Linked DNA regions of Homo sapiens: region 2 is linked to region 1. Evidence: fine-mapped expression QTL. A gene starts in region 1. The other region holds a variant in brackets. All regions are shown on one strand. Distances are between the middles of the regions. Region 1 holds the start of TRIM7 (tripartite motif containing 7). Region 2 holds the start of TRL-AAG2-1 (tRNA-Leu (anticodon AAG) 2-1).

The links. PIP is the estimated chance that this variant, and not a neighbour inherited with it, causes the effect. A credible set is the group of variants that fine-mapping cannot tell apart.
Region 2: its variant is the best candidate, but not a certain one, in a credible set for the expression of TRIM7 in whole blood (INTERVAL, PIP 0.84).

Annotation. Positions count from the first base shown.
Region 1 is chr5:181,199,017-181,210,386 of GRCh38, forward strand. TRIM7 (tripartite motif containing 7) reads right to left here and starts at 6,180. Exons shown (of 7, transcript NM_203293.3): 1 at 5,573-6,180; 2 at 4,529-4,624; 3 at 835-1,065; 4 at 79-101. The coding sequence starts at 6,094. TRIM7-AS1 (TRIM7 antisense RNA 1) reads left to right here and starts at 1,059. Exons shown (of 2, transcript XR_001743050.3): 1 at 1,059-2,000; 2 at 3,572-4,101. TRA-TGC3-1 (tRNA-Ala (anticodon TGC) 3-1) reads left to right here and starts at 7,852; the gene lies at 7,852-7,923. TRK-CTT2-2 (tRNA-Lys (anticodon CTT) 2-2) reads left to right here and starts at 8,739; the gene lies at 8,739-8,811. RefSeq lists silencers at 3,333-3,627, 5,439-5,508, 5,549-5,878, 6,139-6,458, 7,763-7,862 and enhancers at 8,563-8,622, 9,003-9,092.
Region 2 is chr5:181,179,544-181,190,913 of GRCh38, forward strand. TRL-AAG2-1 (tRNA-Leu (anticodon AAG) 2-1) reads left to right here and starts at 8,158; the gene lies at 8,158-8,239. It overlaps TRV-AAC2-1 (tRNA-Val (anticodon AAC) 2-1), which reads right to left and starts at 8,945; the gene lies at 8,873-8,945. It overlaps TRP-TGG3-1 (tRNA-Pro (anticodon TGG) 3-1), which reads right to left and starts at 9,382; the gene lies at 9,311-9,382. RefSeq lists silencers at 4,472-4,681, 4,635-5,302, 8,144-8,273, 8,864-9,063, 11,344-11,370 and enhancers at 4,869-5,369, 9,114-9,323. The variant C/T (reference allele first, on the strand shown) is at 5,298.

The DNA of each region.
Region 1 (11,370 bases):
GACAGGGAATAAAGACAAGGCTCAGTGAAAAGGGAAGAAGCAACTTAGAGAGGCCCCAGGAGCTGTGAGGTCACTCACCTGCTCAGCGTGCTTTTGAATTCCTGGAAGGAAAGATAGAGGAAACCAAATCAGCATCAGGTAACCTCCATTCACCTCTGAGAAACAAAGCTTGCCCCTTGCTGTGCCTCCCAGATGTAAGCATAAGCAAGTGTGCCACGCCTCACTGCCTGCGTGGGCCTCAGGGGCAGCAGCTTCCAGTGGCTGCTGGCTGCAGGGTGTCTCACCCACGCAGTGGACCTCTCACCCTTTGCCACAACTCTTCACGTGCTTTCTTTCTATCTTTGCTGCTTTCTTAGTTACAGAATCATCACTGGAGCTATCCCATGGGACCCAGTGCTGCGTGTGTCCTGGAAACCACCTGAGGGAGGTCACAGCCCTTATGCACCTACTGCTCACTCAGCCCCATAATGACTGTTCTTAACCCATCTATGGATTGTGAAGTTTATCTAGTTGTTTATAACTTTTTTTTTAGCGAAATAGAATAGAAAACATCAAAGTGCATACGTGTAGCAAAGGTGAGTATTATTTTCTGAGACTTTTGTCTCAAGCTTGTGATTCTGAAATACGATATATATTATTGTGGCTCATAGTCAAGAAAGTTTTCACATCTCTCTAGACCTCCAACCCCAGGAAAATCAGGGCACTTCTCTCCAGTCCCCTTCAGCTCCAGATCATGTGATTCTCCTAGACCCCCCAGGACTGACACTGTTCTCTAGCTGCTGGTCCTGATGCCTTAGGATAAATGACTCGAGCCCCTGGCTGAGCCAGACTTACCTGGAGAAAGTCAAGGTCAGGCTTTTGAGCTGTCTCCTGGATCTGGCTGCTGAGCTTGGACAGCTGGGTGATCTCAACCCCGAGCTGGGCCAGGTTCTCATTCTGCTTCTGTGCCACCTCCCGGGACAGTTCCTCCAGGCGGCCTAGCAGCCGACCCTCCTGCTCCACCAGGAAAGCCCTCAGTGCCTGGAACTCTGCCCCCACCTTCTCCTGCTCCGCTGCCATCTGTTTCTGTCCCAGGAGGAGAAGTTGGAGAGGGACTTGAACATGGAGACATAACATTTGGCCAGTGGCCTGAGTCATCCCACAGGGCAAGGCTTCGTCCCTGTCACTGCTGGAGGATCGGAGACACACCCACCTACGCACGCAGTGCGTGCTCTATTGTCAGTGTCCCAGCTCTGAACAAGCTGTAGTCTGGACACATGCTCTTTTCTCCCCTGCCACAGATGCACCCACACATGTCTGTGGACCTGTGCTCCATCACCTAAACCAAGGCAGCTTCATACTCCCCCCAGAACTACGCCAAGCTGCAGCTTCCTCACTTGAAAAGCAGAAGGGATAAATTAGTGCCTCCTGGGGCAACCATAGGATTAAACTGAGATTGCTTTTTCTTCCTCAAGCACATTTATTTCATCACCCTCAAACTTTTACACTTCACTTTCTTTTTAAAGGCCATCTTTCCTGTTTAGCAGTTATAATGCTAACACATGCTCAAAATACAAAACTTGGGAGATGTAGGAAAGTAGAAAGAAGGAAGAAAAGTCCGATGCCAGTGACCAGAGGTAGCAGCACACCCCCAAGGAACGAAGTGAGAATATGCGGCATGCAAGTGTCATATTCTGTTCTTTCCATTAACAGCATACACCGGATTTTTTACTCGAGTTTTCAGATGCAGACTCATGCCCTGATCTCTTGATTTTTTATGTGAACACACGTTTGGCACTCAATATGTCCCACCAGGAAGTTCCTCTTCCTTAAAACTCCTGGGCGGAGGAAGGGAGTCCTGTGAAGTTGGGAGACCTGGGTTCAAGGTGTCCTACAATGCCCCCACCTTTCCTTCAGCTTCCAGGCAGGCTGCAGTAGCCTGGAGCGCCTTATGGATATTAACTCCCTCAACCCTGACGGCAGCCCAGTGGGGAGGGTGCACTTCCCTTCAAGTCTTACAGGTGAGGAGACAAAAGACAGACACATCACCAGGAAGTGTTAAGCCAGGCTTCTCGGCCAGTTGCCTCACAAGGAGGTAGCACAAGTGAAACAGTATTTGCCAAAATACTCTAAGCCAGGGTTTCCCAACCTTAACACAGTTGACATTTTGGGCCAGATACTTCTTGGTTGTAGGGGGCTGCCCTGTGCCTTGTAGGACATTTAGCCGCCCCTCTGGCCTCTACCACGAAATGCCAATAGCATCCCTATCCCATTGTTGACAACCAAAAATATAGTATCTCCAGACTTTGCCAGATGTCCCCTGGGGTAGGAGCATTTTCAAATAAGAGCATTCCTTCTCCCTTTTGTGTTGCAGCAATAGTTGGGCTCTACCTCTGATGTTTCATTAAGCAGGGTATTGTAAATGAGACAAGTGTCATAAATCCAGAAGTATTTTATTGCTGCAAAGAACAGGTAGAGCTCACACCTGTCATCTCAGCACTTTGGGAGGCTGAGGGGGGCAAAGTCAGGGGAGAAGGTTGCTTGAGCCCACGAGTTCCAGACCAGCCTGGGCAACACAGGAGACTACCCCCAACCCCAGCTCTACAAAAAATAAATTAAAAATTAGCCGGGTGTAGTAGTGCACACCTGTAGTCCCAGCTACTCAGGAGGCTGAAGTGGGGGGATCGCTTGAACGACTCCAGCCTTTGTGACAAAGTGAGACTCTGTCTAAAAGCAAAGCAAAACAAAACAACAACAAAAACGAATGTGGGGGTGGATGGATGGATGTTGGGAGAGGACAGAGGTGGAAGGTGTTAAGCAAGGCCTGGGGACTCCGGTCAGAGACTGTGAAGCTGCCGCCGGTGCCAGGGAAGGCCCTCTGGTTCCTGGATGTCAACCAGTGGGGGAAGAGCTGCATTGGGAGTCATTTCTCCAGTGGAGGAGGGATGAAGGTCTAGAGGGTGAGCTCTTCCTCATGGAGGAAAGTGAGTGATGAGGTAGGAAGGTCTGGGATGCACACTGGGTGCAGGCATAACAGATATAGTTGAGGGTCTGGAAAGGACCCTAGGGTGTCTGAACTCCAGGCTCCTCCTCCACCCCTCCTGACATTGAGGATGGGAGGGTCCTCTAGTTCACCTTCCTTCAATTCCCTGCCTTGACAGGTCCTAGTAGATCCTTTCATTCTTTTTTTTTTTTTTTTTTGAGATGGAGTTTCACTCTCGTTGCCCAGGCTGGAGTGCAGTGGCATGATCTTGGCTGACCGCAACCTCTACCTCCCGGGTTCAAGTGATTCTCCTGCCTCAGCCTCCCGAGTAGCTGGGATTACAGGCATGTGCCACCACGGCAGGCTAATTTTGTATTTTAAGTAGAGATGGGGTTGCTCCATGTTGGTCAGGCTGGTCTGGAATTCCCAACCTCAGGTGATCCGCCCACCTCGACCTCCCAAAGTGCTGGGATTACGGGCGTAAGCCACCGCACCCAGCCAATCCTTTTATTCTTTCAACACCTATTTACTGAGCTAGGAACTGAATTTGCAAGGTAGAAAATGACCGATGGTGATTCATGTTTGCTTATCTTTTTTTTTTTTTTTAAGGTGGAGTCTCGCTCTGTCTCCCAGGCTGGAGTGCAGTGGCGCGATCTCGGCTCACTGCAAGCTCTGCCTCCCGGGTTCACACCATTCTCCTGCCTCAGCCTCCGGAGTAGCTGGGACTACAGGCGCCCGCCACCACGCCCGGCTATTTTGTATTTTTAGTAGAGACAGGGGTTTCACCGTGTTTGCCAGGACGGTCTTGATCTCCTGACCTCGTGATCCGCCCACCTCGGCCTCCCAAAGTGCTGGGATTACAGGCGTGAGCCACCCTGCCAGGCCTCATGTTTGCTTATCTTAACCAAAATGAGCCCTCGTTTCACTTTCCTGTTCTACCCTAAGGAAGATAAAATATCATTCCAACTTGGGGTAGAGGCAGGTGCCAGTACCCAAGACCCTGGGCTGTGCAGCAGGGGCTACTGTAAACCCAAGACCCTAAACTTCCTCCCTCTGCCAGAGCCAGGGAGCAGCTCTGACGCCCTCTAGCCCCTTCTCCGTTAGCCTCGATTTCAAATAAAAACACTGTGAACATGAAATTTTTTTCACTACTGTTTTGTTGACAAAACATGCCATGAGGCTCTTTATTGTATTAATATTCCCACTTATTGAATATCCATGTTTCTCTGCAGAAATAGTAATGTGTTCCATTACAAGATGCTTCCGCAGGCCCTAACTGGTATGTTACGTAATATCAGAGTGACTGAGCGTCCTGATTCGCTGGGACAGCTCCAGTTTAAGCCAGTTGTTTTGCAATAATTATTTTAGCACTGCTTTTCACTTTAAAAAGCTCTGGTTTGTACAACAATTATGTGGACACCCTATATAATATGGACTCTATTATCTTTCTGAAATCGATTCTGCGGTTCCATAGCACACACTCCAACACCACACACACCGAGCCCTGGTGCTGAGTTCTCAGGCCTCTGTAATGTCCCACGGGGGGCCTGCGGGTGCCTGGCTCACCAGCAGCTCCTTGCTCTCCTTCTTTTCCGTGGACCGGAACACCTCACAGTCCTCCAGTTCCTTCTTCAAGACCCTCAGCCTGGACTCCAAGAGCTCCTGTAGATGAAGGGAAACAATGTAAGGTGGGGGTGAGGGGCTTCTGGAAACCCCCACCTCTGCCTTCCTGGAGCCAGCCAGGAGAAAGGGAAGGCCCTGCTCACTGAGGGGGAGGCCGGGTAGAAGTCATCTCTACAGGCTACAGGTTACACTGCGAGGTGACTCTGAAGGTCTCGGGATCTTGCTTCCCCAAAAGCATCTGCTGGACCAGCCAGACTGAAACACAAGCTCCGGCAGCCCTACCCCTAGTCGTCTCCTCTACTCTCCGCCCCCCCACCAGGAAGCCCCGTGGCTGGGAGAGTTGGAGCAGGATGGGCCAGCAAGGAGAGACTGGGGACTGCCGCCCGAGCCTCCCCGCCCCGCCCTCACCCCTGCACACACCCTCGCTGAGGCTCAGCGAGAAAATAGCAAAGAAAGGGCCCCCAGAATCGACAGCGTTGGCACAGTCAGACGGCTCTAGGTGCGCGGCTTAACCCGGGAGCCCCCTCCCTGGACATCTTGGCGAGGTCCTCTCACTCAGTTCCACGAGGTGGGGACTTTGAGCAGAGCCCGCTTCGGGGAAAGAGATAAGAGTGGGGGCAGCGGCTGCGTGGCTGTGCCGGAGACTTCCCGCGGGCAGAGAGCTGCGGAGACGCAGACCAGGCTAGAGGCTCCGAACAGACAGGAAGAACATCGCCAAGTCCGTGGGGGACGTCGCGCAGGCGGCCCAGTATCTGGCCCAGAGGGAAACGCAGTGGGGGTGGGGTGGGGGTATTGGTGATGTTGGGGGTGACAGAGAACCGCGCTCAGCCCGGGAACCAGCGCTGGGCTTCCTGGAATGGAGAAAGAAGGGAGGGGCTCACCCGGGCCTCCTGATCGACAGGCTGTTCTCTGCACCCCGTGCGCGGGAGCGCGGGACCAAGTCAGGGGGTCCCGGGGACCCACGGGGTGGGTGGGGGCTGCGCTCACCTTGGCCTCCTGCACCGCCTCGTCCAGCGGCAGCACGGCGTGCTCGCGGTGCTCGCGGGCGCGGTCGCACACCACGCAGATGGCGCGTCCGTCGTCCTGGCAGTAGAGCTTGAAGGGTTCGCCATGCTGCCCGCAGCGGGCAGCCGCTGCCCGGGCCGCGGCCGCCTGAGACCCGTGCTCTCCCGGGGCAGCCGCGGGCAGGCTGAAGCGCCGCAGGAGCGTGGCCACTGCCGCCAGCTGCCGGTTGGGCCGCAGCTGACTGGGGCGCGCGGGCTCGCGGCACTGCGGACAGGGCAGTGGGAAGGGGGGCGCGCGGGTGGCGGCCCCAACAGACCCCGCGCCCGGGCGCTCCCAGCAGCGCCCTATGCAGGCGCGGCAGAAGCTGTGGCCGCACTCGACGGACACCGGCTCACGAAAGAGCTCTAGGCAGATGGAGCACGTCGCCTCGCCCTGCAGCTCTGCCGCCAGCGCTAGAGCCTCGGCGCCGGTTCCGGGGCCGGTCCGCGGTCCCACAGCCGCCATGCGCGCTCTCCGCGCACCCAGATCTGGTCGCGCCTGGGCGGCCACTGGACCTCACAGGACGCGGAGCTGGGCGCCGAGGGCCCACTGGGAGAGGAAGGGCGGGGCTGCCACTGGGCAGGCAGAGACTCGAGCCCGGGGCGCGCCCGGCTGGGAGCCGGGAGGGGAGGCGCACGTTGACTACGGGCCATTCAAGTGCGGGACAGCGCCCTGCGCCCCGGATCTGCGCTCCACCAGCCCCCGCCCTGGCCAGCGGCCTCTCCCCCTCGCCCCCGTCCCTCAGACTCTCCAGGCCGCCCCAGCCTGACCCAGTCAGCCGCGGGAAACGGGCCGCGACAGGTGGGCGCACAAATGCTGCCAGCGCCACTCCCGGTTTCCGACCGAGGCCGACCCAGCATCGCCGGGGCAAGGGCCTGGCGCTCGGGCCACGGTGTCAGGTTCCGCCAGCGCAGGTTCGCCCCGGCCCTGTGCTGAGTTAAATTTAGAGACTGGAACCTGGTCCTGTCCCCTCACGCGCAAGCGTGGCCTTGTATCCATTCCATTACCTTTTCTGCGACTGTCCTCCGGCTTCTTTACTCTTTACTTAGTATTTGAACAGATAACACATTTATAATTTCCCATTGTATTCAGTATTATTCCCCCCCCACCGCACACACACACACACACACACACACACACACAAACCTCAGCGCTCTCTTGTCCCCCAGCTGTCTCCACAGCCCCGCAGCAGAGCTGCCTGTGTTATCCGCTTCCACACCCTCTCTCCTCGCTCACTCTGGAGGCCACTTGGATCAAGCTTTCGCCCGCACCCTCCTCAGAAACCGCCCTTGCCAATGTCACCGGGAACTTCAGCAATTCTCACCCAAAGGCGAAGACCTCGCCTCACCTCATCTGCCCCCGGATGCTCCCTCCTTCCCGACTTCCCTTCTCAGGGCCTTCCAGGACCCAGTGTCCCCGATCTTCTTGCTGTTCCTGAACCCCGTGGCCTCTGCGCTGGCTGTTCCCCTTGCGTGGACCTCTTTTCTCCCACCACCTGCATGCTCCCTCCCACCTCATTCAGGTCTTGTTTCAAACGTCTCTGCCCACGAAGCCCGCCCCGAACGCGCACACTGTGTAAAGTCGTCTCTTAGCGCGCTCCCTTCTCAGGGCCGGCTCTGTGCCCGCACTCTATCTCCTCTGGAATGTCAGCTTTCAGATGGACTGTACTAGGTTTGTTCACGGCTGAATCCTGTTTTTAGAGCAGTTCTTGGCAAGCTCAGTAAGGTTTTCTTGGATTAAACTTGGTTCGAAATTCAAAAGAGGAGCCGCAGTTCACGGTGGAAAGTAGGCCCATCGCCTGTGTCCCAGTCCTTTCTTCCTCCCGAGCAATCAACTTTACAATTCTGGATTACGTTAATCAAATATTCCGTATTTTATTGCCTCAACCCCCACTTTTAAAAAACAAAACGTAGCATCCTGCACAATTTTCCTTTCTTCTCTTTTTCAGGTCACAGTTCATTTTTGGCATCGTGCCTGATGATTGTCTCTCCTTTTTCCACAGCTGCTCCCAGGTGCTTAGCCGGGCCTAATCCTCTCTCTTGGAATCCCTTGGTCAAGACCCGCTGGTTTGGAGTCAGCGGAGGACGCTGGAACAACTCTTGCCCTGCGATGCCGGGTTTTTGCAGCGGCTGAGACCCAGCGCGTACCGGTTGCCTTCCACTCCCGGTGTCCTGAGTTAAGCGACCAATAGGGACCATCTGGGAGAGCTGCTGAGAGTAGGTGGGGATGTAGCTCAGTGGTAGAGCGCATGCTTTGCATGTATGAGGCCCCGGGTTCGATCCCCGGCATCTCCAGTGTAGTTTTGCACATTCAATTATTGTTTTCGATTTTCCTTTCAAATTTTGAAATCCAGCATGTTTGAAGAGCTCCAAGAAAAAACCCAGAGGGTGGAGTCTGCGGAGTAGAAAAAGACCGCGGCGGCCCCTGCCCTCCTCTGGGCCCCATTGTCTTTCCCTCCTGTTTTAAAATCCACACGGTACTTGACCGGGTGAGGTAGCTCACGTCTGTAATCCCAGCACTTTGGGAGGCCGAGGCGGGTGGATCACGAGGTCAGGAGTTTGAGGCCAGCCTGACTAACATGGAGAAGCCCCGTCTCTACTAAAAATACAAAAATTAGCCGGGAGTGGTGGCACACGCCTGTAATCCCAGCTACTCAGGAGGCTGAGGCAGGAGAAGTGCTTGAATCCAGGAGGCAGAGGTTGCAGTGAACCGAGATTGCGCCACGACACTCCAGCCTGGGCGACAGAGCCGCAGTTCGTGGTGAAAGGTAGGCCCATTTTTTGAGAGTCTTCTCTGTCAAAAAAAAAAAAAAAAAAAAAATCCACACGGTGAGAGCTCCAGTGGCGTCAGGGTGCACGTTTCTCCATCTCCGTGCCGTGAGCTTCATCGCGGGTAGAAAATGGCTTGGTCGCTGGTAGGGTAGAAGGGGCAGGAAACGGACGTAAGTGGGAGGGACGGTCAGGCACTGACGGCAGAGTTTGAATTTCCCAGGAGCCGAGGCACTTTAGTAGTTTTATCACACTCCAAATAAATCCAAGTTCAAACCCGCAGTTGAATACACTCCGACTCTGATCTAGAATGAAAAATTGTTGAGATACGGTCATCGGGCGCCCGGCTAGCTCAGTCGGTAGAGCATGAGACTCTTAATCTCAGGGTCGTGGGTTCGAGCCCCACGTTGGGCGGCAACTGGTCGTTTTAGTCCTAAATCTACGACTACTAGCCATACCTAAAAATATATTATAAGTAGACCAGCTCTTAGGAAAATAATCTGCTCTGAAGTCTTGCATTTCTGTGTGTGTAATACTCTTGCGGGCGCTCCACTGTTCATTATCTACCCATTATCTTGCGATACAATTAGGATTTAAAGCTGTGGTAAAATATGCCCAACAAAATTTAACACTTTTTAACTGTACAGTTCTGTAGCATTAAATACATTTAAATGGTTGTGCATCAGTCTCCAGTCCTTTTTCCTGTTTCCCAGATGAAACTCTGAACCCATTCAGCATTAACTCTCCATTCCCCTCTGCCCACAGACGCTGGCAACCACCATTCTACTTTCTGTGTCTTTGAATTTGACTCCTCTAGATACCTCATATAAGATGAATCGTGCAATATTTCCTTTTTAAATTGTCTTATTTCACTTAATGTCTTCAAGATTCATCCTTATATTTCCTTTTTAAATTGTCTTATTTCACTTAATGTCTTCAAGATTCATCCTTATTGTAGCATGTGTCAAAATTTCCTTCCTTTTAAAGCTGATTAGCATTCCATTGCACATATATACCACATTATCCATTCATCTGCCAATGGACACTTGGTTCCTTCCTCCTTTTGGCTACCGTGGATAATGCAGCTATGAACATGAGTGTACAGATATCTGTTTGAGTTTAGGCTTTCTATTTTTTTAGAGTATACATCACAAAGTGAAATTACTAGGTCATACGGCATTTCTGTTTTTGCGGAAGTGTCATACCATTTTCCACAGAGGCTACATCACAAATGAGCTTTAAAAAACATCTTTCGACCTGGCGCGGTGGCTCACGCCTGTAATCCCAGCACTTTGGGAGGCCGAGGCGGGCGGATCACGAGGTCATGAGATCGAGACCATCCTGGCTAACACGGTGAAACCCCGTTTCTACTGAAAAAAAAATACAAAAAATTAGCCGGGGGTGGCGGGCGCCTATAGTCCCAGCTACTCAGGAGGCTGAGGCAGGAGAATGGCGTGAACCCGGGAGGCGGAACTTGCAGTGAGCCAAGATCGCACCACTGCACTCCAGCCTGGGCGACAGAGAGAGACTCCGTCTCAAAAATTAAATTAAATTTAAAAAAAACATCTTTCGGCCGGGCCCAGTGGCTCACGCCTGTAATCTCAGCACTTTGGGAGGCCGAGGCGGGTGGATCGCCTGAGGTCAGGAGTTCGAGATTAGCCTGACCAATATGGTGAAACCCTGTCTCTACTAAAAATACAAACATTAGCCGGGCGTGGTGGCACGCGCCTGTAATCCCGGCTACTCGGGAGGCGGAGGTTGCAGTGAGACGCGATTGCGTCACTGCACTCCAGCCTGGGCGACAGAGCAAGATTCCGTCTAAAAAAAAAAAATTAAAAAATACAAACGGGCCTTGTGGTGGACGCCTATAATCGCAGCTACTCGGGAGTCTGAGGCAGGAGAATCACTTGAACCCAGGAGGCAGAGGTTGTAGTGAGCTGAGATGGCGCCACTGCACTCCAGCCTGGCGGACAGAGCGAGATTCCGTCTCAAAAAAAAAAAAAAGCCGGGCGCGGTGGCTCACGCCTGTAATCCCAGCACTTTGGGAGGCTGAGGCGGGTGGATCACGAGGTCAGGAAATCGAGACCATCCTGGCTAACACAGTGAAACCCCGTCTCTACTAAAAACACACAAAAATATAGCCGGGCGTGGTGGCGGGCGCCTGTAGTCCCAGCTACTCGGGAGGCTGAGGCAGGAGAATGGCGTGAACCCGGGAGGCGGAGCTTGCAGTGAGCAGAGATGGCGCCACTGCACTCCAGCCTGGGAGACAGAGCGAGACTCCGTCTCAACAACAACAAAAAAACCCAAAAACAAAAATCTTTCGGCTGAGCGCGGTGGCTCATGCCTGTAAATCCCAGCACTTTTAGGAGGATTGCTTGAGGCCAAGGGTTCGGGAGCAACCTAGCCAGACCCTCATCTTTAAAATAAAAATTAAAGAACATTAAAATATAAAACAGAATTCAGTGAAAAGTGTTTAACTCCCCCTTAAAATTTCAATTTTATATTTTTGTACATATTCTTCCAGAAATTTTGATGCAAGTAGTTTTTTTTGGGGGGGGGGCTGGGTAAGGAGGGGGAACAGAGTCTCTTGATCTGTCGCCCAGACTGGAGTGCAGTGGCGAGATCTTGACTCACTGCAACCTCCACCTCCCGGGTTGAAGCGATTCTCTGCCTCAGCCTCCCGAGTAGCTGGGACTATAGGTGCCTGCCACCACGCCTGGCTAATTGTATTTTTAGTAGAGACAGGGTTTCACCATTTTGTCCAGGCTGGTCTCGAACTCCTGAACTCAGGTGATCCGCCCGCCTCGTCCCCTTAAAGTGCTGGGATTACAGGCGTGAGCCACAGCGCTCGGCCTTTTTGTTTATTTTGTTTTTTGACAGAGCCTGTTGCCCAGGTTGGAGTGCAGTGGTGCAATCTCAGCTTGCTGTGACCTCTGCCTCCCGGGTTAAAGCGATTCTCCTGCCTCAGCCTCC
Region 2 (11,370 bases), 19 kb before region 1:
AGGAAATGGTGATTCCAAGGGAAGTTGCTGTCTGGGTGCTGGTGCTGTCCTCCTCCTCTGTCCACCCCATATCTAATGCATTCTGAGCGCTCGCTGGGCAGTCAGTGCAGGGCGGGACAACAGTCACGTGTTGCTTCCCAAGACATACAGTCACGGGCCCCTTAACAACAAGGATGCATTCTGGGAAATGGTGATTAGGTGGCTCTTGGAAGGTGCACCTCATTTACCCCTAGGCTGGGTGGCATAGCCCATCGCTCCCACGAGTGACGTCTGTGCTACGACAGTACCACGGCTATGACATCCCTAGGCCATAGGAATTCTTCAGCTCCATCATAGTCATGGGACCACTGTCATGCACGTGTCCCTCCTTGCCTGGAAGGTTGCTGTGCAGCGCATGACGGCACTTCCATGTCAGCGGGTGCCTCGCTGGCCCATCTCCTGCCCCTGCTCACTCTGTCTGCCACCTTCCAGCAGCTCCCTGCCCTAAAGCCATCCTGATGCTGCTTTTCCGCCATTTCTTCCTCTGTGCATGTTACCCCAAACTCCACAGGGACTGCTGCTTGCTTGACATGCATTCTGGAACCTTCTGGGATCCTGTCCCAGTGCTCCCAAGGAGAAGCGGCAAGCAAGGGCCAACTCAGCCCAGGGCTGCCTCTGTCCAGGCCCTCTGTCCAGGTCGACAGGCATCTTCCCCTCCCCAGGGGGAGTGCAGGCTCCAGATGAGTTTCTGTCTCCCCAGCTGAGAACCTTTGTCTTGGTTCGGGTTGCTGTAACACAATACCATATGCCAGGCTGCTCAAACAATGACATTGATTTCTCACAGTTTCGCAGGCTGGAAGTCTAGATCAGGGTGCAGCACACTGCAGTTCTTGGTAAGGATCCTCTTCCTGATTTCTGCCCAGCTGCCTTCTCACTGTATCCCCACGAGAGAGGGAGAGGAACCAGCTCTCAGTCTCAGTTCTGTCTCCCTGTGAATCTGAGAGTGTGCTGAGGCCAGGAACCTTTGTCCCCTTAGCACCTAGACAGGATGTGGGACAGGAGTTAGGCACATAAATAAATGAATGAATGAATGGAAAGAAAATATATGATTGGTAATAATCCTTCATTGATTCAACAAGCCAACCCTGCACAGTCCTCACTCTCAGCTGGGGACATCCGTTGCAAAAGTTCAATCACCTCTGGCCCTGGCCAGTCCCAGGTGGCACCTCAGCTGTCACCAACCTGTCCCCTGACAGTGCCCTGGATGAGGCCACCAGCACCTCCCTCCTGACTCACAAGCATGGGGCTCTTCTAGCAGCCCTACTTGACTACTCTTGGATCTGTGGGGCTTTTGGTTCTCCGAAAGTCACTCACTCATTTATCAAAGGGGGACTTCATGTTCCACCTTTGACCCACAACTCTTTTGTACTATTTGCAAGACTCTGAGGCTTTTTTTTTTTTTTTTTTGAGACAGGGTTTCACTCTTTTTGCCCAGGCTGGAGTGCAGTGGCATCATCTCAGCTCACTGCAACCTCTGTCTCCCAGGTTCAAGTGATTCTCCTGCCTCAGCCTCCTGAGTAGCTGGGATTACAGGCACCCATCACCATGCCTGGCTAATTTTTTGTATTTTTAGTAGAGACGGGGTTTCACCATGTTGGTCAGGCTGGTCTTGAACTCCTAACCTCCAGTGATCCACCTGCCTCAGCCTCCCAAAGTGCTGAGATTACAGGTGTGAGCCACCACGCCCAGCCGAGTCTGAGCCCTTTTAAAGATGGGTGGCCATGGACTACCAGTCTGGTGAAAGTTATGGACTCCTTCTCAGAATAATGCTTTCTTTCTGTTTGTTTTTGGTTTTGGTTTTTTGAGACAGGGTCTTGCTCTGTTGCTAAGGCTGGAGAGCAGTGGGAAGAACCTAGCTCACTGCAGCCATGACCTCCTGGGCTGAAGGGATCCTCCCACCTCAGCCTCTCAAGTACTTGGGGCTACAGGTGCATGCCACCATTTCTGGCTAATATTTTGCATTTTTTGTAGAGATGGGGTCTCCCTATGTTGCCCTTGCTGGTCTCAAACTCCTGGCCTCAAGCGATTCAAATACCTTGGCCTCCCAAATAGCTGGAATTACAGCTGTGAGTCACACTGCCAGGACAATTACCATAATTTTTAAGTACTAATGAGCATAAGTGATATTTCAAAGTGCCTACAAGAACTATGATTTGACATGTGATATGAAAGGACCTGTGATTTCTTTGTGTTTTGCTGGTGTATGAGACAGAGTCTGCCTCTGCTGCCCAGGCTGGAGTGCAGTGGCACAACCTTGGCTCGCTGCAGCCTCCACCTCTGGGGCTCCTGCGATCCTCCCGCCTCAGCCGCATCTGTGATTTCCATTAGCAATAAAGGTCGTGTTAATTCTACTGTGGATTGCAGCCTCCTTTCTGAATGGAAAACCCTCTTTCAGTTCGTGATTAGGAAAAACATGAGTTCTGCTATTGTTCCCACCCAGATTCACAGATCCCCTGTTATCCCCGCCTCCTAGGAAAGGGAATCTTTCGGCCTTCTCGGGGCCAGGCCTTCACCTCCGCCTACAGGCAGGAGATGGCGCCAACAGCAAGAGGTTCCTTCTGACTGTGGCCTATAATTAGGTCAAGTGGCAGCATAGGTAGACGTGCAATCAGGGACTAAGTCTGCAGATGTGACTTGCATGAGGTGGGCATGACTGTGCTACGAGCATAACTAAGAACGTCTTCATCTTAGTGAGCGGGTGTTTTATGAGAGTGTGCACTAAGATGAGAAATCATCCACAGCATCCACTAAAAGAGGGTTTGGGGGCCTTAAGTCTGTGCACACATCCGCCCGCGGTGTCCGGGGAGAGAGTGCGAAGTGCCGGGTCCCTGCGAAGGTGCAGTTCCTGGAGGAGGCCCTCAGGCTCTCAGGACAGCGGATGCTGGGACTCCACATTCTCCTTCTGGTTTTCTCCTGGTCTCCTGTCACCCGTGGCAAGTGTCTCTCCTGTTGTTGTCGTTTTTATAAATAGAAACAAGGTCTCATTATGTTGCCCAGGCTGGTCTCAAACACCTGGACTCAATCAATCCACCCACCTCTCCCTCCCAAAAGTTCTGGGACTTCAGGTGTGAGCCGACGCACCCAGCCCTGTTCTATTTCTGATTATAATCCTGAGCTTTGTCCATGTGTCCCTTTAAGCTTGGCTAATGGGGCTGAGCACATAAGAAAAGGAACTACCAGACTTGGAACGCTGAGGCAGGAGGATCGCCGGAACCCAGCAGTTGCAGACCAGCCTGTACAACGTACGGAGACCCCATTTCTACTGAAACATAGAAGAATAAAAATCAGCCAGGTGTGGTGGCATATGCCTGTAGTCCCAGCTACTTGGGAGGCTGAGGTAAGAGACTCATTTGAGCCTAGGAGGTGGAGGCTGCAGTGAGCCGTGATCGCAGCACTGCGCTCCGGCCTAGGTGACAGAGGGAAACGTCTTGAACAAAAAGAAGAAAAGAAAGAAAAGGAAGTTTTCATGCCCGACGCGGTAGCATAAGGGGGCATGGGAGACCGGACGAGAGGGTGTGGCAGCGACCGCAGGGAGAGGAGACGGCGGACGCGGAACTGTGCGGGGTTGGCAGTGGGCTTGGGGGTGGCACAGCGGGGACGCGCTGGCACCGGTTTCTGAGAGGGGACATTCGGGAGAAGCTGCCTGGGGAATGGGAGGCCACGAGTTCGGGCGTGGAGACGGAGCTTCAGGGCCTGGAGAAAGGGGAGTGGAAATGACGGAGGAAGTATCCGTATCGCATCCTCGGTTTGCCCGAGAGATGTCTGTGCCGCCACGTTTACCGCAGCGCTGTTCACAATAGCCCAGATCTGCGAGCAAAGGCAGCGGCCGTCGGTGCAGGAGTGGGCGGAGGCACCGAGGTGGATGCGCAGCAGAGCACCACTCAGCCGCAAGAACACGATAATCCCGGCCGGGCGCGGGGGCTCACGCCTGTAATCCCAGCACTTTGGGAGGCCGAGGCGGGCGGATCACGAGGTCAGGAGATCGAGACCAGCCTGACCAACACGGTGAAACCCCGTCTCTACTAAAAATACAAAAATTAGCCAGGCGTGAAAAACACCAGGCGTAAAAACACACCACAGGCGCGGTGGCGGGCGCCTGTAGTCCCAGCTCCTCGGGAGGCTGAGGCAGGAGAATCGCTTGAACCTGGGAGGCGGAGCTTGCAGTGAGCGGAGATCACGCCATTGCACTCCAGCCTGGCGACAGAGCGAGACTCCATCTCAAAAAAAGAAAAAAATATATAGAATTTTGGCCCATTAACTACACTAGATATTTATTTCTCTATATAATCATTATGATGTTATACAGAGATTGAGCCACAAGGATAATCTTGCAATGGGGGGAAAAAAAAAATCTGAGTCTAAATGTTCAACAACAGTGGCTGCTTAGATATCTAGAGTTCTTCCAAACACTGGAACAATGAAAATGGTGTTGTGGGCTGTTTTCTTCTTCCCGCTGATACCAATCCTGCTGCGGTCTGGTTGTGGTATACAGGGAGTTCCGGCGGGCCCAGGTCCCCTCTCCTCCTGCAGCCCTGGGCCCGGGCTCCGCTGCGTCTGGCGCTGCAAGACCTGCGCGCCGAGATCCCGGGGCGAGGGACCCTGGGCGGCGCGATCTGCACAGCGCCGAGCCTGCATCGCGCCCCCGCCAGGACCAGAGCCGCGCCGCGGTGGAGTCCTGAGCGCCCCCGAGCGGTCACGTGTGCGGCGGCGACCCAAGAATTTGAAAGAGTCGCGGAAAACTGCACTCATCATAGAGCATCTGAAGGTTCCTAGAGGGAGCTGTGAACGGTTAACAAAAAACACGGCCATGGGGTCCCCTGGTGGCGTTTTGAAGGGCGACCCCTCCCCTACCCCAGCGCGGCCTGTGGCTCTTTGTTTACAATTTCATAAAGGCGAAAAATAAAATGTAGGAATGAGTGGCATCACAGTACCTTTGTTGAGTATTTTTTTCTTTTTCTTTTTACTATGGAATCTTTCCAGCGAAGTTAAGTACTTTTTAAAAGGCAAGTTACAAAACACAATGCAAAGTATTCTTATTAAAACATAGCTCGGGGCCGGGCGCGGTGGCTCACGCCTGTAATCCCAGCACTTTGGGAGGCTGAGGCGGGTGGATCATGACGCCAGAAGATCGAGACGATCCTGGCTAACACGGTGAAACCCCGTCTCTACTAAAAACACAAAAAAATGAGCCGGGCGTGGTGGCGGGCGCCTCTAGTCCCAGCTACTCGGGAGGCTGAGGCAGGAGAATGGCGTGAACC[C/T]GGGAGGCGGAGCTTGCAGTGAGCTGAGATCGCACCACTGCACTCCAGCCTGATCAACAGAGCGAGACTCCGTCTCAAAAACAAAAACAAAAACAAAACAAAACAAAACAAAAAAACCAAAAAACAACAAAAAAAGAGCTCGGCCAGGCGCGGTGGCTCACTCCTGCAATCCCAGCAGTTTGTGAGGCCTAGGCAAGAGGAGCTCGAGATCAACCTGGGCAATATGGCGAAACTCGTCTCTACAAAAAATACCAAAATTAGCCAGGCGTGGTGGTACGCACCCGTGGTTCTAGCTGCTCCGGAGCCTGAGGTGGGAGAATCGCTGGAGCCCAGGAGGTCGAGACTGCAGTGAGCTGTGTTTGTGCCACTACAGTCCAACCTGGGTGACAGAGCAAGACCCCGTTTGAAAAATAAATAAATATGTAAATGTAAATAAGTAAATAACATAGCTTGTCGAGCTGAGTAGGGTGGCACACGCCTGTAATCCCAGCTACTCAGGAGGCTGAGGCGGGAGGATGGATCGAGCACAGGAGGTTGAGCCCAGGTTGGGCTAAACTGCGTAAACCACCCCCAACCCCTGCCTCAAAAATATATATATATAAATATAAGACAAATAAGTTAAAGTATCCATGAAAATAGTCTTAAAAGCTCTAAAACAAAATAATAGCAATATGTGTGGCATGGTTGAGGACGCTTTTTATGTTCTTTAAGCTCATTTACTCTACTTTTTCTTCTTAGGTGTGTCTAATTATTCCACAGTGAGCACATGTTAATGAAAAAGGTTTAGTGTCTAAACGTAGAAATAGGAAATCCTCCGGAACTGAAAGAACAGGCTGGAGGGGACCGAACAGAGCCTGGCACGTGCTCCAGGAGCGCCTCGGGGGCTGAGCGCTGGTAGAGGCGGCCTCTGTCTCCCGATCACTCTGCAACACAACGGGATGCCCACCTAGCCTGAGGATGCCAAGTGGACACAGGAAGCCAGCGTGGCCACACAGCAATGAGGAAGCACAGGACCCCTCATCCCCTCCCAGGGGCTTCTTTCAACAAGTTACAAATACAAAGACAGGTAAGGAACTTGGAAAGGCGTTTCTGCTGGGAGGCTCTACCGTATTTGGTTCTCTGGCCTGAAACTGTCATAGAGAGAACTCGAAGGTGGCCCCTAAGATTCCCACCCGGCGCACACGCCCTGTAGACCACCTGCCTATGAGTGAACGTGATGGCATGTCACTCCCACAACCATGCCACATTTTACGGAACAAAGGATTGCGCAGCTGTGATTGAGGTTCCTGGTCAGTTGATTTTGATAAATCAAAAGGGAGATTATCCTGGGTGGGCCTGACTTAATCAGGTGAGCCCTTTAAAAGAAGGTGGAGTTCCAGAAACACCGTGCACCGCTGGCCTCAAGGAAAGGGGCCTCTGGTTGCCAAGAGTGGCCCTCAGCTGACAGCCAACAAGCAAACAGGAGATTTCAGTCCCACAGCCACAAAGAAATGCATTTTGTCAACAACCAGGGAGGCTGGAAGAGAACCCCCCTGCCTCAGATGAGGCTGCAGCAATGGCCAACATTGTGATGTCACCTGCTGCGGTATCAGTAGAAGATCTTGCTAACTTGTACTCCACAAAAAGCGAGATAATAAATCTGTGCTGTCTTAAGACACTAAGTGTGTGGTAATTTGTTACACACCAGTAAAATCTAAAACAATAGCCTTTCCAACTAAGAAAGTCATGTTTTAAGAAACAATTTTCATACAGATATATCTGTACTGTGTAAAGATTTCATATGTACAGAGATCTTAAGTGCGCATGGAATTGAATACACGTGTGTACCTATCATCCAGATCGAAAAGGAACATTTCCAGCATTACAAAAAATTCCTCATGTCCCTTGCAAGTCAGTACCTGCACCTCCTTCTCCCAAGTGACAGGATTTTTAACTTCTGTCACCATAGATTAGTTTGGCTCGTGTGTGAATGTCATATGTGGAATCAATAGAATGCAGATCGTTGGTGTCTGGCTGCATTTGCTCAACATTGATGACGGTGAAATCCGTCCATGCTGTTTGCAGCAGTAAGCTCATTATCAGTGTTATAATAATCCCATATAAGACTATATATATAATAAAAAAATAAAATAAAATAAGACTGTACACAATTTTATTTATCCAATGTGAAGATGGTGGGCATTTGGACTGTTTCCATAAGTGAGTTATTATGAATGAAGTTGCTAAGAACGTTTCTGCTCATGACTCATAAAGTCAATACATACTCTCAGTTTGTTGTCTGCTTTGTTGTTGTTGGGGCTTTTTGTTTGTTTTGTTTTGTTTTTGTTTGATTGGTTTTGGTACAGGGTCTTGCTCTGTCACCTAGGCTGGAGTGCAGTGGGGCGATCTCGGCTCACTGCAGCCTCGACCTCCTGGGCTCAGCTTCCTGAGTAGCTAGGACTATGGTCACACACCATCACGCCCGGCTAATGTTTACATCTTTTGTAGAGACAGGGTTTCGCCATGTTGCCCAGGCTGGGGTTTTTTGCTTGTTTTTCTTTAGGTTTTTATTTTATTTTATTTTTCATTGTATTTGTTTTTGATTTTTTGAAGTGAGAGTGTCGAAGTCTTCCCCTGCTCTGGAGTGCATTCCCCAAAGAGGGTGGCTTTATGACTGGCCTTCCTAAAGCAGATCCTGAGGCCTGGGCATTGAGAATCCTGTGTCAGGGCACTGGTGGAGCCGTTTCCCAGCCAGTGGCTTTGGCGGAGCGGATCCTGCCATGGTCCTGCCCTGTGGATTCGCCCCAACTCCCTGTTGGCCCAGAGCCCCTTCGCACGCTTCATAACTGAAGGAAAATATGTAAATACCCAGCGGCAAAGAGGTAGCGTGGCCGAGCGGTCTAAGGCGCTGGATTAAGGCTCCAGTCTCTTCGGGGGCGTGGGTTCGAATCCCACCGCTGCCAGTTTGTGGTAGTTTTGTCACTTTTGTCCCCTATGGGTTACAAAAGGAGTAATGGGCCCCACACATACTCGAGATGCGGGGTTCCATTTGGCAGCGTGCCGCTGTCCAGTGGATGAGCTCTGTGCCGAGCTTGTCCACAGCAAGTAAAACTGGATTGAGTTCACAGGTGCGGGTGGTTGGGAATGGAAAGCAAAAGCGTAGATGCCCTCTTCTCTTTGTGCCGCTGTGACCACCAGGTGGACATACTAGTGGGATCTTCTAGGTTAGTCTCCAGTGTAATAAGAGCGTGTAATGAGATAATAACCGCTTCGGGGCCGCGCGCGGTGGCTCACGCCTGTAATCCCAGCGCTTTGGGAGGCCGAGGTGGGCGGATCACCTGAGGTCCGGAGTTCGAGACCAGCCTGACCAACATGGAGAAACTCCGTCTCTACTAAAAATACAAAATTAGCCGGGCGTGGTGGCGCATGCCTGTAATCCCAGCTACTCCGGAGCCTGAGGCAGGAGAATGGCTTGAACCTGGGAGGCGGAGGTTGCTGTGAGCCGAGATCACTCCATTGCACTCCAGCCTGGGCAACAAGAGCGAAACCCCATCTCAAAAGAAAGGGGGGGGAAAAAAAAAAAAAACACTGTGGCATGTTTCCGCCCGGTTTCGAACCGGGGACCTTTCGCGTGTTAGGCGAACGTGATGACCACTACACTACGGAAACCCACACCTACCTCTGTCGCCATAATATTGTCTGCTAGCAGCTACTCTCCGGGTACGTTCGACAAGTGATCCCTAGCTGTAAAAGGAGAGCCCCCACAACCCTCAAGAGCATACTCTCACGTGCAGGTCTGTGCCCAAAGTCTTCACAGCAACTGTTGCTTCCGGGACGGCTCGCTTAGTCTCCTATCCACGATTCTTTCCAATCCCCAGCACTCCCGGAAATCTTGGTGATGCCTCCGCTGGACATCTTTCGGGATCAAAACTGTCAAGGTAACACAAAATTTAGTTGAAATTTAAAAAGCTGGCTCATCCAGGATTTGAACAAGAAGAACTTCAGTTGAAATGGAAAAAAAAAAATGAAAAAGTGGGCTCGTCCGGGATTTGAACCCGGGACCTCTCGCACCCAAAGCGAGAATCATACCCCTAGACCAACGAGCCGGCTGTCTAGTTGCTCGCTGAATCTTTTCATGATTGTGTTCTTCATGGCTCGATTCACCGAAAAGGCGGATTTCCGTCTGGCAGCTTGAACCCATTCTCAAGGTCTTATAGTCTCCCAAGCCCAACTTGTCCCCGCTGCCCATCTCCGCGTCTGCCACTAATTCTCAGCCGCAGGTAGCTCCACACAGGGTAAACGCTCCCTATGTCCTGTGTCCTCTGGTCTCCTGGAATCCGAATGAGCGCCTCCCTGCTCGATCCACTCGAGTAGCAGGCAGGAGCGTCCATCCGTTCTGCAGCCTGGGCGCCCCTTCCCAAGCGAGTCCAAGAAAGGCGCAAATCTTGAGGCCCAGGGGCAGGACACAGAGGTTGGTAGAGCCGGAGGGCTCGGGAGAGAGCGCAGTGCTGAGAGGGAAGGAACGCCGGACCGGCTGGGTGAGGAGCCCCCAGAAGCCGCTCTTACCGTTTTATGAAAAGATAATAAACAGTGCATACCCATTTGCAAAATCTTCAGGAAATGTAGGAAAGTGTAAGGCGGAAACGACCGATGACCAGGAACTCTGTCTTCTCGTGGAGACTCTAGCCACGGGGTTGTTGCACAGCTCGGAGGCTGGGACCCACGCGCGCGCGCTCCCGCGGTGCAGAGTCGGGGTCCTGGCTCACAGCCCTCGCAGCATTCTCCCGGGATTGCCCCCGGGCCGCCTCCAGCACAGGGCAAGCCTGAGGCTCGAGCTGGGCGGGCGCGCTCCTCTTTTCTCGCCTCAGACCTACTCTCGCCCTGCGCACTTTAATTGCACTGGTTTATTTAGTAGTAAAAATAGTGATGCGGTTTCCTGCTGTAAAATTCGCGATAATCTACTCAGAGCTGATGCACAGGTTTATTTTTGTGTCACCAGCAGAGACATTTCCTACACTGCTGTAAAACAGCGTGGGATGGTGGTTAAGCTACTCCGAGGAAACAATGCTCATTTTTCCATTCGCACGCTCGGCGATCTTGCTCCGCCGTCTGCGACCGCCACTGTCCTCGCCCCTCCTCTCTGCCTCTCCACGCTGGACTCCCCTGGGTGCCGTGGCTGGCTTTCGGCTCTTCCAGCAGTGAACATTTCAGGTGAACGGACCCGCCCCAAGGGTCCTCCCCACCCGGCATAGCTCTCCCTTGTCCCAAGCCTCGCACCCACGCCTCCCCCAGCAGCTGGACAGGAGCGCCAGCCTGGGAGACCTCCCGGCACCTCACCCAGATCCCACCTGATTCAGCCAGGTGACCCGTGAGTGTACGGGAGCGGCTGTAACGCCCAGACTCTGAGAGCCCCCGAGTGCGAGGCCTGAGGTTCATCCACCTGTCTCTTCGATGATTATGGGGACCGCCTGCCAACACCCCCACACACAAGCAGACGCACGCACCCTGGGAGTCCACGGCTTTCGTCGGGAGGGTATCTGTAGTTAAGCCGTCAGGTAGCTCGCCACTGGTCCCCGTGACCCGACTTCTACAGTGGGGTGATCTTCCTGTGGGGCAGGCGTTTCGGGGTCCACGAGTCCGAGGAGCCCCGGGAGCGCTAGTGCCCGAACGTGCTGGCAGGCTCCTGGCCTCTCCCGAGCGAATCCATCCCGGTCTTGACCCACGGTCTCGGCTCTTTGGACCGGAGCAGGCATGGGTGAGAGAGGGAAGCGCATACCTCCCGGCCGGAGCCGCAGACCCCGCTCGCTCCTCCACGCCTCCCAGTCAAGGCAGTCACCCCTCCGGTCTCTACCCAGGTGGCCCCGAGCGATTTTCTCTTCTCTGGTTCACCGGACAGGGATTCCGTTTTCGAACCTTGAGCTACCCTGGAGTGGTCCCGGTATAAGCCGCGGCCCCACCTGGGACGGGGACTCGCTCAGAGCTTTTTTGAGGTTCCCTCCGGCTGGAGAGAGGGCGCCTGCGACAGGGGAGTGTACGGCGGGACCCAGCGCCGCCTCCACCTGTGCCCAGGCCTCCAAAGTGCGCGGTGCGGGGA